Linked DNA regions of Homo sapiens: region 1 is linked to region 2. Evidence: fine-mapped expression QTL. Tissue or cell type: whole blood. Region 2 holds a variant in brackets; the other region holds the start of a gene. All regions are shown on one strand. Distances are between the middles of the regions.

Region 1 (8,101 bases), 24 kb after region 2:
ACTGATACAGCTGGCCCATGAATTCCTGGGAGTTAAAGGCTGCGCACTGCAGGGCCCGGGGGTCTGGCTGCTCAGGGGGGCAGGGCTGCGGTGAGGGGTACAAAGGAGTCAGAGCTGGGGAGCAAAATGAGGGTAGGGGCAGGGCTGAACCTGGGGAGCAGGTGGGAGGCTCAGGTCAGCGGAAGAGCTCCAAGACCCCTGCCCTGAGGTGGTCAGATGCCAAGGCCCTTCTCCCTCAGGTGCCAAGCGGAAGCTGAAGACCCAGCTTCAGGGCAGGGAAGCCACACTGGAGGTCGGGGTTGGGAGGGGAGGCCCGAGGAGACTCACCGCTTGGCTGCAGGCTCTTAGCTGTTCACTCTCCCCAGAACATCTTGGAATAGGGCTACTGGGAGCAAAGAGGCTCCAGAGGGAGCTGGCATGGGGGCCGTTGCTCAGCAGGGGCAGCCAGGCGCCCGGGTGCTGAGGGTCAGGCTCCAGGCGGGGCCCGTGAGGAGTCCCCCCCGTTCCCCAAGGCCCTTGGCCCTGCTGGCCTCGGCCCCGAGGGACCGAAGGAAAAGGATCAGGGCGTCTCCCTGCTACCTGGGGACTGGCCCAACCCTGGGAACTTGGCCTTCGTGGCTGAGGGGATGCACGGAAGAAGCCACCTTCTCCTAAGGAGTGCGTGGGTGAGGGGGGCTCTGTGCCAGAGGCCTGGGCTCTGGGGTGATGCCGTAGGGGGGCAGGCCTGGTTCTGGGGGCCACCTCTGTCTGAGCAGTTTCAGGGCTTAGAGGTTCTGCTTGGGGGGATGGGGTGTGGACAGACAGTTCTGTGGGAGGGAGCTCAGTTTGGGGGCTGCCGTTTGCGGAGAATGGCTCTGCTCTTGGAGTAGGGGACGGAATAGCCTCTTCCCCTCTAGAAGAGATCAGGGACAGCTCAGATCTGGGTGGGCTCCGAGGGTGCCTGCGGTTCCGGTGCAGTGGCAATGCAAAGGGCACTCTCCCATAACCGAACATTCCTGGCTTGATGGGGTCTCGAAGCCGGGACCTGAGAAGGTGTTTCAGATGTGGGGGCACAGCTCTGACCACCTCTGACCCTGTTTCCCCAGTTTACTTCCTGGCACCAAAGACAAGCCCTCTGAAGCCACCCGTGCTCCCCTTTCCTTCATGCTAAGCCCCCACCTTGCCCAAGGCCCACCTCTTCCACCCAGGCCTCTCACCTCCTGGCCGCTCGAATCTCCTGGGTCTCCTCTCTCCCTAGGTGGGAAGCGGGACCTCGAAGTGGGCCACCCCTTCCCCGAGACTGTGTCCTGTACAAGGGGAGGGTTTCTGGAGAAGTCTGGGGTCTGGGACCCTGGCCCCGGGGGAGGAGGGCTTCTGGATGTCTTGGGGGCCGGGGAGGGAGGGGCAGACTCGGGTGGAGCTGCACTGTAGGGAGCTGACATGTCCGGCTCCTGCGCTGCACCCCCACCCCGCAGGGCTGGGAGCAAGAGGCCCACTGGACCCAAGGTCCCCAGACACCTTCGGGGCCCTGGCCCTCCTCTGTAGGTGTCTGAAGAGAGTGTCCGGACAACACCTATATAGAGAAAAAGGTCAGACAGAATTGGAAGGATTAGAGGGAACTGTCCAGAGTGTCCATGTAGACCAACACTGAGGCTCACGGAGTCGCTACCAGTCCAAGGTCACATTCAGCAGCAGAGGGAGAACTACACCTCGGCCTCTTGGTGTTATGAGGCAAGGAACTGGGGAGTTGGCAGGGGAGGTGGGTGGGCTGTGGGGAATGGAGGCGTGGCCTGGAGAGATGGGGTGGGAGCCTAGGGGGAGATGAAAGGGTGGCAGGCAGGCTGCAGCTGCTCACTTGTCCAGAACTCACCTCCTGATCCAAGCAGAGCTGAGGGAGGGACAGAAGCAGCAGCAGATACAGCCAGGGCCTGCAAACCAAAGGCCAGGGGAGGGACGTCAGACTGGAGCCAGAGGGGGTGTTGCAACACTGCCCTCCGCCCCCAGCCGGCTCCCATATCCTGACTACCAACTTCTCAGAAAGCAGAAGTTACTCATCACTTCCCCTGCCCCTCCCAGTGGTCCCCTTTCCCTCACTTCCAGACACAGAGCCATCCCAGCACCTCCCCTTTTCCTCCCCCCCAACCCGTGGCCCCTTCTCTCACCTGCCAGTCCAGTTCTCCATCGCTCCCCCTCTACTGCCCCAGGGGGAGGCAGGAGCGGACTGGTCACAAAAACTACGCAGGCATCTGGGCGTGGAGGGTGCTCTCTGCAGGGACAGAAGCCTGGTGGTTACCTCTCCAGTGTCCAGAGAGCTTGGGGCTGGGAGGACAGCTCAGAGAATATGGAGGAGGGGGTGAAACTGGTCCATCCCTTTAGGATCCTCAGGGTGGGAGCAGGGAGGATCACTGCCTTGTCCATCTGTAGAGGCTACATGGTCAGGGGCTGACCTCAGCCCTCCAACTAAGGCTCAGTCCCCACCTCTGGGCCCTGTAGGGGCTTCTTAGCTCCTCCCCAAATCCTACCTAGGGACTGTTTCTAAGCCGGCTCAGGCACACACAAAAGGCTTTTTTTTTTTTTTTGAGATGGAGATCTCACTCTGTCATCCAGGCTGGAGGGCAGTGGTGCCACCAAAGCTCATTGCAGCCTCAAACTCACAGGCTCTCCTTCCTCAGCCTCCTGAGTAGGTGGGACTACATGCGTGCACCACCACACCCAGCTAATTTTGGTATTTTTTGGTGGAGATGGGATCCAGCTAAATTGCACAGGCTGGTCTTGAACTCCAGGCCTCAAGCGCTTCTCCTGCCTTGGCCTCCCAAAGTGCTGGGATGACAGGTGTGAGCCACCGCACCCAGCCAGAGGGCTCCTTCTAAAATGGTTGTCATCTGCTCCCACTCCTGCCCTCCCAGAGGTGCCTAGAAAGTAGAGGAGGAAGGCTCCACTGAGGATGCGCCAGACACTCTCTCTGAGGACCCACCAGAAGCCCCTTCCTTGGGTCTTCCAGACACAAGACCTTCCCCAGTCATCTCTCTGTCCTACTTGCCTCCCGGCTTTCTCTTCCCTTCTTAGATAAGCTCTTTAGGGAACATCCAGGCACATCTCATACACTTTTTGGCCAAGGGATAAGCTAAATGGGTTGACGGTTTAATCTCTAGAGAAGAAGCCGGCAATGTAACACCCACTCTGGGTGCCAGCATCTGGAGTTGGTTCAGTGAGGGCTTGTTTCCTGTGCGTCTCTACCAGCTGGGGAAGCGGGAAGGAGAGGTGCAGCCGGGGCTGCCTCATGCCCCAGCCACAGGCCTCTCATTCTGAAGAGCCGGGAAGTCCATCTGAAGTTCAGCTTTGAACACTGGAGAAGTGAGGCTTGGAAGCCACCCCAGCCACCAAGCCTGACTCTCTTTGCCCCCTTCTTCTCACTTTGAGTCCTTCCCACCCCTGCTCCTCATCCCACTCTTAGTTCTGCTTTCCAGGAAAAAAAAAATCTGTTTCTGTTGGATCTGAAAGGCACCCGGGAGAGGAATCCAGGGAGCCCTCGCATTGCTGAGGTGGGCCAGCTCTGGGGCAGAAAATGACCAAGAGAAGGGTAGGAATGTGCCTGGGGGCAGACACTCAGCCCCACTGCCCTCCCTGAGACCTAGGGTTCGGAATTTGAGGGAGGGGTCAGAGTGGCTGAGCCAGAGCGGGCGCCTCAGGGATTGGGGTTGGGGTGGGGGTTGCCGATGGCCACTCCTTCCCCTGGCTGGGCCGGCCACTAAGGTCAGCAACTCCACCCTGACTGAACGGGGGAGGCCAGGATCTCCAGAGAAGGGCCCATGTTCCACCCAAGTCTTCAGGCTCTGCCTGACTCTTGTTACTCCAGCTGAGGGAAGAAGAAATGGGGTGATAGTCACTGCCTGCCCCTTCTCTGATGCCGACCCCTCTTCATGCCCTCTCTGCCTCTGCTTCTCTCTGCCACCGAGATCTCTTCTCGCAGCCCCTCTCCACGGGTCTACCCAGTACACATAATCCCATCCCGAGCTGGGTTTGGCTTTGGCAGTTCCCTGGAGAAGTGAGGGGTGGGGGTGACGTGAGCTCCCGGGGCCCGGGCCAGGCCTGGCTCCCTCTCTGGAAAAGTCCCACCCCACCCTCCCCTGCGCAGCCCGGCAGGGGCCCATGCCCCCTCCTCTGCAGAAACACACGCACATTTATGCTTCTCACCCCTTTCCATGTCCCTCATTTGGTGTCGTTCCCGGCCCAGGACGAGGAAAGGAGAGGTCAGAGGTGGTCACTCTGGTGCCAGAGTAGACCCTGGTCTGGACAAACGCGGGCTCCTCCTGGCCACACCTCTCCACACTGCCCAGTGAAGACCAAGGAACAGAGACCTGCGCAGGGCTCACCCCTTCACCCCCAGGTCTCCCTGCTGGAGAGTGGTTGGACCCTGTGTTTCTGGGCCTAGCCATGGAGAATCCCTGTCCTGAGTCCGAATTCCCGGGCCCTCAGAGCCCTCCACTCCTGGGTCTGGCAGGCCACCCCAACAGGTGTCTTTCTTTTTTGTCAACCTCTTCTGCCATCGGGCTGAGCTGGATCAAGGGCACCCACCTGCGTCCCTCGCGGCGACCCTGTCCTCCAAGTTCAGGAGTGCAGTGGGGGACACACCGTCCGAGAGCACCCTCCTAGAGAGAGGGCAGGAGGCACCGGCCGCGCGGGGAGGTCATGGGTCTGTTTTCCAACTTTACTATGTGACTTAGGAGGAATTTTGGTTCACTCCCCGCCCGGGTGATGGGGCCAGAGTTCCACGGGATCAGACTCCCTCCCCAGGAATTCGACCCCAGGGGCTGGAAGATTGTCCGAGGCCACCGGAGCTGGGTCCGGGGTCGTGGCGGGGTCGCGACCGCACAGCGCAGGGAGAGGGGACGACGCGGGCGCGCGGGGCGGGCGGTCTAACGGGACCCGGGAGAGGGGCGGCCGGGGCCGGGGTCCCGGGGAGGTCTCTACCTGCTCTGCGAGCCCCCGGTGGCCCGTTAACCCTTCTGCGCCCAGGCGCTCTCTCCAGGCAACCTCGCTCCGCGGCGGCCACTGGGGCCCCTGAGCCGCGCTCCGGTCACGGCCGCCTCGGCCGCAACTCCGCCCTCGCGCCCGCCCCCGCCCAGCCCCGCCCGCCACGCGCCCCAGCCCGCGCCCCTCGGCGGCCCCGGGGTGGGGCCGGTCTGCCTCGCAGCCCCACTCGCCAGGACCACCCACCCCGGGCTGCGCGCCGGGCGCCCCCCGACGGCTGCGTGAGCTGAAGCCCGGGCTGGCCCAGCCGGGGTCGGAGGCTGCAGTCGCTCCCGGGCGCTGTCCTCGTGCCCGGCCGAGACTAGGGACTTAAGCAGCCCGGGCTGGCCCAGCCGGGGTCAGAGGCTGCAGTCGCTCCCGGGCGCTGTCCTCGTGCCCGGCTGAGACTAGGGACTTAAGCAACCCGGGCCTCCGAGCCGCTCGGGTGAGCGGTGCGAACACGGCGCGGCGCGGCGCGGCACAGGCGGGGCAGCCTCCAGGGGCGCCTGGAGCGAGGCGGCCTGGGAGAGCCGCTGGTCCGGGAGGGAAGCGCCCTGGACGGAGGTACCCGCGGCCCCCGATCCGCGTGGGTCCAGGCTCTCCCCTCCACGCAGCCTCCCCTGCAAACTCAGTCACTCCTGCCTCTCCCGTGTTGGGCAGTGGTGGTTCAGATTGCTGGGACTTCTATGAGCTTCGGTTTTTTTCCTCAGTAAGGTTTTACACTCGGGACTCAGCGAAAGGACAGCGTGCTGACTTCTGAGTCAGACTGATCTGGATTTGAACCTCAGCTCCAGCTCTTGCCAGCTATGTGGTCTTCGACGAATACTTCCACCCCTGTGTGGTGCAGTTTGCTCATCTGCAAAATGGGACTAATCTAATATATATGATGGGCTTGGATATGTCTCTTTATGCATTTATACATGGAAGAATGCACCCCAAACTCAGTAGTATTGGTGACATCTGGGGAGGGATGCAGGGTTGGGGGAGGACTGAAAAAGGCTTTTGCTTTTTACTCTGCGTTATGTTTATTATTATTATATTATTATTTATTTATTTTTTTTGAGACGGAGTCTCACTCTGTCGTCCAGGCTGGAGTGCAGTGGTGCTATCTTGGCTCACTGCAAGCTCCGCCTCCCAGGTTCACGCCATTCTCCTGCCCTAGCCTCCTGAGTAGCTGGGACTACAGGCGTCTGCCACCACGCCCGGCTAATTTTTTGTATTTTTAGTAGAGACGGGGTTTCATCGTGTTAGCCAGAATGGTCTCGATCTCCTGACCTCGTGATCCGTCCGCCTCGGCCTCCCAAAGTGCTGGGATTACAGGCGTGAGCCACCGCACCCAGCTATGTAATGTTATTTTTGTGAATTTTTTTAACCACAAGAGCAATCCATCTATTAGTTTTATCTTTTTTTTTTCTTTTTTTTTTTGAGATGGAGTTTCACTCTTGTTGCCCAGGCTGGAGTGCAGTGGCGCGATCTCGGCTCACTGCAACCTCCGCCTCCCAGGTTCAAGTGATTCTCCTGCCTCAGCCTCCCAAGTAGCTGGGATTAGAGGCATGCGCCACCATGCCTGGCTTATTTTATATTTTTTAGTAGAGACGGGATTTCTCCATGTTAGTCAGGCTAGCCTCCAACTCCCGACCTCAAGTGATCCTCCTGCCTCGGCCTCCCAAAGTTCTGGGATTATAGGCGTGAGCCACCGCGCCTGGCTATTATTTATTATAAATAATATATGTAAGCTGGGCATGGTGGTGAAAGCCTGTAGTCCTAGCTACTCAGGAGGCTGAGCGGGGAGGATTGCTTGAGCCCAGGAGTTTGAGGCTGCAGTGAACTATGATCGTGCCACTGCACTCCAGCCCCTGCGACAGAGAGAGACCTCGTCTCAAAAAATAAACACATAAATAAATAAAATATGTAAAATGGCTGGCATAGAGTAGACAATAAATGGTCACTGCTATTTTTATATTTTACTTTTTTTTTTTTGAGAAGGAGTCTTGTCCTGTCACCCAGGCTGGAGTGCAATGGCGCCATCTCAGCTCACTGCAACCTCTGCCTCCTGGGTTCAAGCCATTCTCCTGCCTCAGCCTCCTGAGTAGGTGGGATTGCAGGCACGAGCCACCACGCCTGGCTAATTTTTTGTATCTTTAGTAGAGATGGGGTTTCACCATGTTGGCCAGGCTGGTCTCGAACTCCTGACCTCATGATCCGTCCGCCTCAGCCTCCCAAAGTGCTGGGATTACAGACATGAGCCACTGCTCCCGGCCTATATTTTTACTTTCTATTTACTGACGCGTTGTATTTTGTTGGGTCTACTCAGTGTTTTAAAGGTTTTTGTTTGTTTGTTTTTTGTTTTTAAGACAGGCTAGTTTCAAACTCCTGGGCTCAAGAAATCCTCCTTCCTTGGGCTCCTAAAATGCCGGGATTACATGTGTGAGCCACTGGGCCCAACCTAAAGGCACATTTTTTTTTTTTAAATAACTTGTCAATACGTATTTTAAAACCTGGATATTTTAAAATTTCTCTTGAAAAACTAAAACACAAAAATAGAAGCTCTAACAACATTGTCCTGCATCCTCACAAAATATCAGAGGTCTTTGGTTCCCCACCTGTCATTTTTTGGGCGCCTTTTGCACTTGGTGTTGAAGAAGCAGCAAGAAGTCTCTGGCCTCAAGGAGTTGGGTCTGATCAGGCACAGACACGGCAGGTAATGGGGTCATGCGAAGGTTAATACTGGGCTCAGCTGAAGGAGATGTTATCTCTAAGAAGATGATGGATATGAAAACGTAAAATGCTTTCAAAATGTAGGAATTGGGCCGGGCGCGGTGGCTCATGCCTGCAATCCCAGCACCTTCGGAGGCCAAGGCGGGCGGATCATCTGAGGTCAGGAGTTCAAGACCAGCCTAGCCAACATGGCGAAACCCCATCTCTACTAAAAATACAAAAATTAGCCGGGTGTGGTGGTGGGCGTTTGTAATCCCAGCTACTCAGGAGGCTGAGACAGGGAGAATTGCTTGAACCTGGCAGGCGGAGGTTGCATTGAGCTGAGATCATGCCACTGCACTCCAGCTTAGGTGACAGAGCGAGACTCTGCCTCAAAAAAATAAAGAAAAGAAAA
Region 2 (8,094 bases):
TGGGGCCACCAGCAGGAAGGCGCTGGAGACCTTACGACGGGTTGGGGATGGCGTGCAGCGCAACCACGAGACGGCCTTCCAAGGTAAGGGGGTTCATTAATCGCCAAGGCCTCACTCCCTTTTTTCCATCTCTCCCCGGACTCACCCGCCAAGGGTGGGTTGGAAACCGAAACGAGTCAGTGTTGAAACGTGTCTCATCCTATTCCTGAAGCCAGAATATTCTGGCCATGAGTCATTGTTTCCGCCCATCTTGATTCTTTTGGAAATGGCAGCTCTTGTTCAAAGACCGGAAAGGGTGGGATGTCAATTTCAAGTGGGGTCAACCTGAGTTCTGTAAATCCCAGTAGCGATTTTCCCGCCGCGGGTGGGCAGGCGAATCTTGCGCCGGTTTAGACAAAGGAGGCCGTGAGGACCTGCATGCTTTTCTTTCTCAGGCATGCTTCGGAAACTGGACATCAAAAACGAAGACGATGTGAAATCGTTGTCTCGAGTGATGATCCATGTTTTCAGCGACGGCGTAACAAACTGGGGCAGGATTGTGACTCTCATTTCTTTTGGTGCCTTTGTGGCTAAACACTTGAAGACCATAAACCAAGAAAGCTGCATCGAACCATTAGCAGAAAGTATCACAGACGTTCTCGTAAGGACAAAACGGGACTGGCTAGTTAAACAAAGAGGCTGGGTAAGTTTGCCTTAAGGATGAAAGGGGCCTTGGAGTGGAAGTAGAATGAAGGATTTTTTTTAGAGAGGTGGGGATATCTAAAGGTTTTTATGACGCACGGCTGTTTGCAGGCTCTAACTAAAGGACCATTGTTTATTTGATGTTGATTTAAGTAGTGGATCCTTAGAGATAGTGGTATGGCGGTCTTGAATTGTATCAAAAATCTTGGTTTTCTCTAGGCAATTTTTTGTTCCAATTCAGTTGAATACTCTTCAGTGGATTCAAACCATGAAAAAATAAGTCACCAGGGGAGGATAGCTGAAATAATTCCTAAGGCGGTGCCTGTTTTAATGGAGAAGATATGGGGTGGAGCCTGCGTTTTAAACAAACCCAGATCTGATGCAGGATGTACTTAACTACGTTGAGAAAAACTGATCTGCGCAATTGAGGCGTTACTGAAATATTAGGTGGTGGAGATTTGAGAATAAGGGTTTTCGTCTTTTACCTCATGGGAACTCTGGAAGTCCTTTTGTTAGGATAAATCCTAATAAGACCAAGATAGTACTGTAAAATGAAGTTTAATTATCATGGGTCCCCGCTTAAGAAACTGAAGAACTTATTTTCTTTTTTTGCCCCGGGGTGAATAATAATTGGTTTACTATTGCTTTAGGGGGAAACCTTAGATATTTTAATTTACCTTCTCTCTGGATAGTAGTGTTGTAAGAGAGCAGAAACCCATACTTGAAAATGTGCTTTTCTTTTTTGTTTTCTAGGATGGGTTTGTGGAGTTCTTCCATGTAGAGGACCTAGAAGGTGGCATCAGGAATGTGCTGCTGGCTTTTGCAGGTGTTGCTGGAGTAGGAGCTGGTTTGGCATATCTAATAAGATAGCCTTACTGTAAGTGCAATAGTTGACTTTTAACCAACCACCACCACCACCAAAACCAGTTTATGCAGTTGGACTCCAAGCTGTAACTTCCTAGAGTTGCACCCTAGCAACCTAGCCAGAAAAGCAAGTGGCAAGAGGATTATGGCTAACAAGAATAAATACATGGGAAGAGTGCTCCCCATTGATTGAAGAGTCACTGTCTGAAAGAAGCAAAGTTCAGTTTCAGCAACAAACAAACTTTGTTTGGGAAGCTATGGAGGAGGACTTTTAGATTTAGTGAAGATGGTAGGGTGGAAAGACTTAATTTCCTTGTTGAGAACAGGAAAGTGGCCAGTAGCCAGGCAAGTCATAGAATTGATTACCCGCCGAATTCATTAATTTACTGTAGTGTTAAGAGAAGCACTAAGAATGCCAGTGACCTGTGTAAAAGTTACAAGTAATAGAACTATGACTGTAAGCCTCAGTACTGTACAAGGGAAGCTTTTCCTCTCTCTAATTAGCTTTCCCAGTATACTTCTTAGAAAGTCCAAGTGTTCAGGACTTTTATACCTGTTATACTTTGGCTTGGTTTCCATGATTCTTACTTTATTAGCCTAGTTTATCACCAATAATACTTGACGGAAGGCTCAGTAATTAGTTATGAATATGGATATCCTCAATTCTTAAGACAGCTTGTAAATGTATTTGTAAAAATTGTATATATTTTTACAGAAAGTCTATTTCTTTGAAACGAAGGAAGTATCGAATTTACATTAGTTTTTTTCATACCCTTTTGAACTTTGCAACTTCCGTAATTAGGAACCTGTTTCTTACAGCTTTTCTATGCTAAACTTTGTTCTGTTCAGTTCTAGAGTGTATACAGAACGAATTGATGTGTAACTGTATGCAGACTGGTTGTAGTGGAACAAATCTGATAACTATGCAGGTTTAAATTTTCTTATCTGATTTTGGTAAGTATTCCTTAGGTTTTTCTTTGAAAACCTGGGATTGAGAGGTTGATGAATGGAAATTCTTTCACTTCATTATATGCAAGTTTTCAATAATTAGGTCTAAGTGGAGTTTTAAGGTTACTGATGACTTACAAATAATGGGCTCTGATTGGGCAATACTCATTTGAGTTCCTTCCATTTGACCTAATTTAACTGGTGAAATTTAAAGTGAATTCATGGGCTCATCTTTAAAGCTTTTACTAAAAGATTTTCAGCTGAATGGAACTCATTAGCTGTGTGCATATAAAAAGATCACATCAGGTGGATGGAGAGACATTTGATCCCTTGTTTGCTTAATAAATTATAAAATGATGGCTTGGAAAAGCAGGCTAGTCTAACCATGGTGCTATTATTAGGCTTGCTTGTTACACACACAGGTCTAAGCCTAGTATGTCAATAAAGCAAATACTTACTGTTTTGTTTCTATTAATGATTCCCAAACCTTGTTGCAAGTTTTTGCATTGGCATCTTTGGATTTCAGTCTTGATGTTTGTTCTATCAGACTTAACCTTTTATTTCCTGTCCTTCCTTGAAATTGCTGATTGTTCTGCTCCCTCTACAGATATTTATATCAATTCCTACAGCTTTCCCCTGCCATCCCTGAACTCTTTCTAGCCCTTTTAGATTTTGGCACTGTGAAACCCCTGCTGGAAACCTGAGTGACCCTCCCTCCCCACCAAGAGTCCACAGACCTTTCATCTTTCACGAACTTGATCCTGTTAGCAGGTGGTAATACCATGGGTGCTGTGACACTAACAGTCATTGAGAGGTGGGAGGAAGTCCCTTTTCCTTGGACTGGTATCTTTTCAACTATTGTTTTATCCTGTCTTTGGGGGCAATGTGTCAAAAGTCCCCTCAGGAATTTTCAGAGGAAAGAACATTTTATGAGGCTTTCTCTAAAGTTTCCTTTGTATAGGAGTATGCTCACTTAAATTTACAGAAAGAGGTGAGCTGTGTTAAACCTCAGAGTTTAAAAGCTACTGATAAACTGAAGAAAGTGTCTATATTGGAACTAGGGTCATTTGAAAGCTTCAGT[C/T]TCGGAACATGACCTTTAGTCTGTGGACTCCATTTAAAAATAGGTATGAATAAGATGACTAAGAATGTAATGGGGAAGAACTGCCCTGCCTGCCCATCTCAGAGCCATAAGGTCATCTTTGCTAGAGCTATTTTTACCTATGTATTTATCGTTCTTGATCATAAGCCGCTTATTTATATCATGTATCTCTAAGGACCTAAAAGCACTTTATGTAGTTTTTAATTAATCTTAAGATCTGGTTACGGTAACTAAAAAAGCCTGTCTGCCAAATCCAGTGGAAACAAGTGCATAGATGTGAATTGGTTTTTAGGGGCCCCACTTCCCAATTCATTAGGTATGACTGTGGAAATACAGACAAGGATCTTAGTTGATATTTTGGGCTTGGGGCAGTGAGGGCTTAGGACACCCCAAGTGGTTTGGGAAAGGAGGAGGGGAGTGGTGGGTTTATAGGGGGAGGAGGAGGCAGGTGGTCTAAGTGCTGACTGGCTACGTAGTTCGGGCAAATCCTCCAAAAGGGAAAGGGAGGATTTGCTTAGAAGGATGGCGCTCCCAGTGACTACTTTTTGACTTCTGTTTGTCTTACGCTTCTCTCAGGGAAAAACATGCAGTCCTCTAGTGTTTCATGTACATTCTGTGGGGGGTGAACACCTTGGTTCTGGTTAAACAGCTGTACTTTTGATAGCTGTGCCAGGAAGGGTTAGGACCAACTACAAATTAATGTTGGTTGTCAAATGTAGTGTGTTTCCCTAACTTTCTGTTTTTCCTGAGAAAAAAAAATAAATCTTTTATTCAAATACAGGGTGTGATATGGGTCTTTTCTCATCGACGCCTCTTTTTCCTTCCCTCTCTTAGGCAAACCTTTTAGAGAAGTCAGCTGAGCAAATATGTACAGGTGAATTCAAAGCAAAAGCCTCACAAAGTTGATTTGCCTTAGAGCAAAGGACAGTTCCTTTCTTCAATTCTAATTAGAGGTGTTGGGTTTTTAATTAAATATATTACTGCTGTACTTAGAGGAGTTCTTAAACCTCCAAGTAAAATCAAAAACCTCTTTAAAATCAAAATTTCTGTCTTGATTTATTTATTTATTATTTTTTTTTTGAGATGGAGTTTTGCTCTTGTTGTCCAGGCTGGAGTGCAATGGCACGATCTCCGCTCACCGCAACCTCCGCCTCCCAGGTTCAAATGATTCTCCTGCCTCAGCCTCCTGAGTAGCTGGGAATACAGGCATGCGCCACCACACCCAGATAATTTTGTATTTTTAGTAGAGATGGGGTTTCTCCGTGTTGGTCAGGCTGGTCTTGAACTCCCGACCTCAGGTGATCTGCCCACCTCTGCCTCCCAGAGTGCCAGGATTACAGGCGTGAGCCATCGCACCCAGCCTCTGTCTTGATTTTTTTGAATCACCAGGTGTTGGTATGTTTTGTTTTGTTTTGTTTTGAGGCACAGTCTCACTCTTTTGCCCAGGCTAGAGTGCAGTGGGGCAATCTCGGCTCACTGCAACCTCAGCCTCCCGAGTAGCTGGGATTACAGGTGCCCGCCACCATGCCCGGCTAATTTTTCTATTTTTGGTAGAGACGGGGTTTTGCCGTGTTGGTCAGGCTGGTCTTGAAGTCCTGACCTCAGTGATCCACTCGCCTCAGCCGAAGTGCTGCGATTACAGACCTGAGCCACTGCGCCCAGCCTTGATCTTGAGGTAAGAGGGTACTGTACAGCAGTTACTCTATCATAACACCTAAATAATACCTAAAGTTAAAGAGTTTTGATGAAGTTCTTGGCAGCAGTGCTTTTCCCCTTCTGCTTTCCAAAAGGAGGTAAAAAGAAGCCAGTCAATTTCAAAAACCCCTATCCTGCTTTTATTTTCAGCTACCTTGAAAGTGAGCTGAATCACCATGGAAATGTGCAAATGTGAGGTTTGCATACTTGGTTTTAAGCCCTGAGCACCATATGCTAATCAGGCAATCAGGATTCTGTGCCTCCCTGCAGTCAGTTGCATTTCTATTTAAAAGTGCATTTTGGTTTGGAAGCCCCTTTCTGGAGCCTAACTACCAAAAGGCAGCAACTTTTTGTATCATTACAAAGAAAGCTGTGTAAGTGCACTCCCAAGCAAAGGTGTGGTAGGAGAGTAGCAGCCACAGAGGACCCAAGCCCAAGTCTTGGCCTGAGTTAAGTTAGTGCTATTGCTCCCATTGACGTGCTATGATGTGAAGCCGTTTCTGGTACAGTGTTCCTTTGCTCAGCACCTTAAAAGCTTGGATTTAATAGTAACTGGGTAACCTTAATCAGTAGTCAGAATTATCAACACTTTGCTTTATTTGACACAACCAGACTTTCTCAGTTCCTGTTCTGTATCTAGAGCAACGTCTTCATACTGTTTTTTCACAAAATTTTTATTTAAAACAGTTGTGACAGCCGAAGGATTTTTTTTTTTTTTTTTACAAAATTAAAATGAAATAACTTGTACAACTGGTGCGTACCATGGCTCCAGCCAGATGCCCAAAGCACTGGCTATTAATTCCTGGAGTTCAGATGGTCAGTTGAGTCTATCCTAGTTTTTTGCTTCACTTGTTCAATCATGGAACTTTCTAGAACGCTGCCACTCTTCAAAGGCTTCTCAATTTCAAATTTGAAAACTTAATTCTCTCCCTCTTAGTTTCAAAGTTGTTACAGTGTTATCTATGTGAAGTATGTGGAAAGTTGGGGGCTGGGGATTTTCCTCCAGGCAGATTAAGAAACAGCTCTCCGGGTCGGGCGCTGTGGCTCAGGCCTGTAATCCCAGCACTTTGGGAGGCTGAGGCAGGAGAATCGCTCGAACCCGGGAGGCGGAGGTTGCAGTGAGCTGAGATCATGCCATTGCACTCCGGGGCCTGGGCGACAGAGCCAGACGCTGTCTCAAAAAAAAAAAAAAAAAAAAGGCACGGTGACTCACACCTGTAATCCCAGCACTTTGGGAGGCCAAGGTGGAGGGATCATGAGGTCAGGAGTTTGAGGCCAGTCTGGCCAATACAGTGAAACCCCATCTCTACTAAAAATAAAAAAAATTAACTGGGCATGGTGGCGGGCGCCTGTAATCCCAGCTACTTGGGAGGCTGAGGCAGGAGAACCACGTGAACCTGGGAGGAACCCCGGAGGTGGAGGTTGCAGTGAGCCGAGATCGTGCCACTGCACTTAAGCCCAGGTGACAGTGTGAGACTCTGTCTCAAACAAAATAAATACCTCTCTAGTGAGGTGGCTCACGCCTGTAATCCCAGCACTTTGGGAGGCCAAGGCGGGCTGATCACTTGAGGACAGAAGTTTGAGACCAGCCTGGCCAACACGGTTAAACGCCACTACTGGTGGCGGGCACTAGTAGTCCCAGCTATTCAGGAGGCTGAGGCAGGAGAATTGCTTGAACCCAGGAGGTGGAGGTTGCAGTGAGCCAAGATCATGCCACTGCACTCCAGTCTGGGTGACAGAGCGAGACTTCCTCTCAAAAAAAAAAAAAAAAAGGCCAGGGGCGGTGGCTTATGCCTGTAATCCCAGCACTTTGGGAGCCCAAGGCGGGCAGATCACCCGAAGTCAGGAATTTGAGACCAGCTTGGCCAACATGGTGAAACCCCGTCTCTACTAAAAATACAAAAATTAGCTGGGTATGGGGTCACGCGCCTGTAGTCCCAGATTGCAGTGAGCCAAAATCACACCACTGCACTCCAGCCTGGCGACAGAGCGAGACTCCATCTCAAAAAAAAACACCTCCGAAAATTTGGTGTCCTTTACTAATAATTCTTGGGAAGTAGAAAAAGGATATACGTAGCAAGCTTTTGTTCCCACACTATACTTGGTTTCTAATTTGCAGTTCCCTTCTTGACCTGCATAGAATAATAGTTATTTTCCATTGGGAAATGAGAAATCTTCAACATTGAGGTAAGTTAGGATTTTTTTTTTTTTAAGAGGTGGGGTCTCACTCTATTGCCCAGGCTGCAGTGCAGTGGGACTATCACGGTTCACTGCAACCTTGAACTCCTGTGCTCAAGCAATACTCCCACCTCAACCTCCAAAGTAGCTGGTACTACAGGTACCTCACCATGCCTTGTGTTTTGTTTTGTTTTGTTCATAGAGATGGGGTCTTGCTATATTGCCCAGGCTTGTCTATTTAGCAGGAGCTCTAGGCAGCCAGATGTTGAGAGTGTCTTCATTTTTCCATTACATGACAGTAGACTGCTTATTATGTATCATGAACTGTTAGATAATGGAATTATAAAGAGATCATTCTTCCCCTTAAGAAACTCAAAAAAAGAGGCCGGGTGCGGTGGCTCACGCCTGTAATCCCAGCACTTTGGGAGGCCAAGGCGGGCGGATCACAATGTCAGGAGTTCAAGGCCCGCCTGGCCAATATGGTGAAGCTCCGTCTCTAGTAAAAATATAAAAATTAGCCAGGTGTGGTGGTGGACTCCTGTAGTCCCAGCTACTTGGGAGGCTGAGGCAGAAGAATTGCTTAAACCCGGGAGGCCGAGGTTGCAGTGAGCTGAGATTGGGCCCCTGCA

The links. PIP is the estimated chance that this variant, and not a neighbour inherited with it, causes the effect.
Region 1: ADAMTSL4 starts here. The variant in region 2 is fine-mapped to the expression of ADAMTSL4 in whole blood (TOPMed, PIP above 0.99).

What each region holds. Positions count from the first base shown.
Region 1 is chr1:150,546,349-150,554,449 of GRCh38, reverse strand. ADAMTSL4 (ADAMTS like 4) reads right to left here and starts at 5,042. Exons shown (of 19, transcript NM_019032.6): 1 at 4,951-5,042; 2 at 4,555-4,628; 3 at 2,142-2,245; 4 at 1,850-1,907; 5 at 1,197-1,552; 6 at 328-1,024; 7 at 1-85. The coding sequence starts at 2,161. LOC124904417 reads right to left here and starts at 4,160. Exons shown (of 1, transcript XM_047438226.1): 1 at 3,100-4,160. The coding sequence starts at 4,160. The coding sequence ends at 3,390. It overlaps ADAMTSL4-AS2 (ADAMTSL4 antisense RNA 2), which reads left to right. Exons shown (of 6, transcript NR_187269.1): 6 at 5,700-5,886. MIR4257 (microRNA 4257) reads right to left here and starts at 2,521; the gene lies at 2,436-2,521. RefSeq lists enhancers at 1,788-2,657, 3,147-3,836 and silencers at 5,172-5,311, 5,482-5,631, 5,563-5,857.
Region 2 is chr1:150,570,832-150,578,925 of GRCh38, reverse strand. It overlaps MCL1 (MCL1 apoptosis regulator, BCL2 family member), which reads left to right. Exons shown (of 3, transcript NM_021960.5): 1 at 1-83; 2 at 435-682; 3 at 1,435-4,368. The coding sequence ends at 1,551. ADAMTSL4-AS1 (ADAMTSL4 antisense RNA 1) reads left to right here and starts at 4,374. Exons shown (of 4, transcript NR_104133.1): 1 at 4,374-4,802; 2 at 5,105-5,267. RefSeq lists enhancers at 1-179, 180-898, 1-1,058. The variant C/T (reference allele first, on the strand shown) is at 3,575.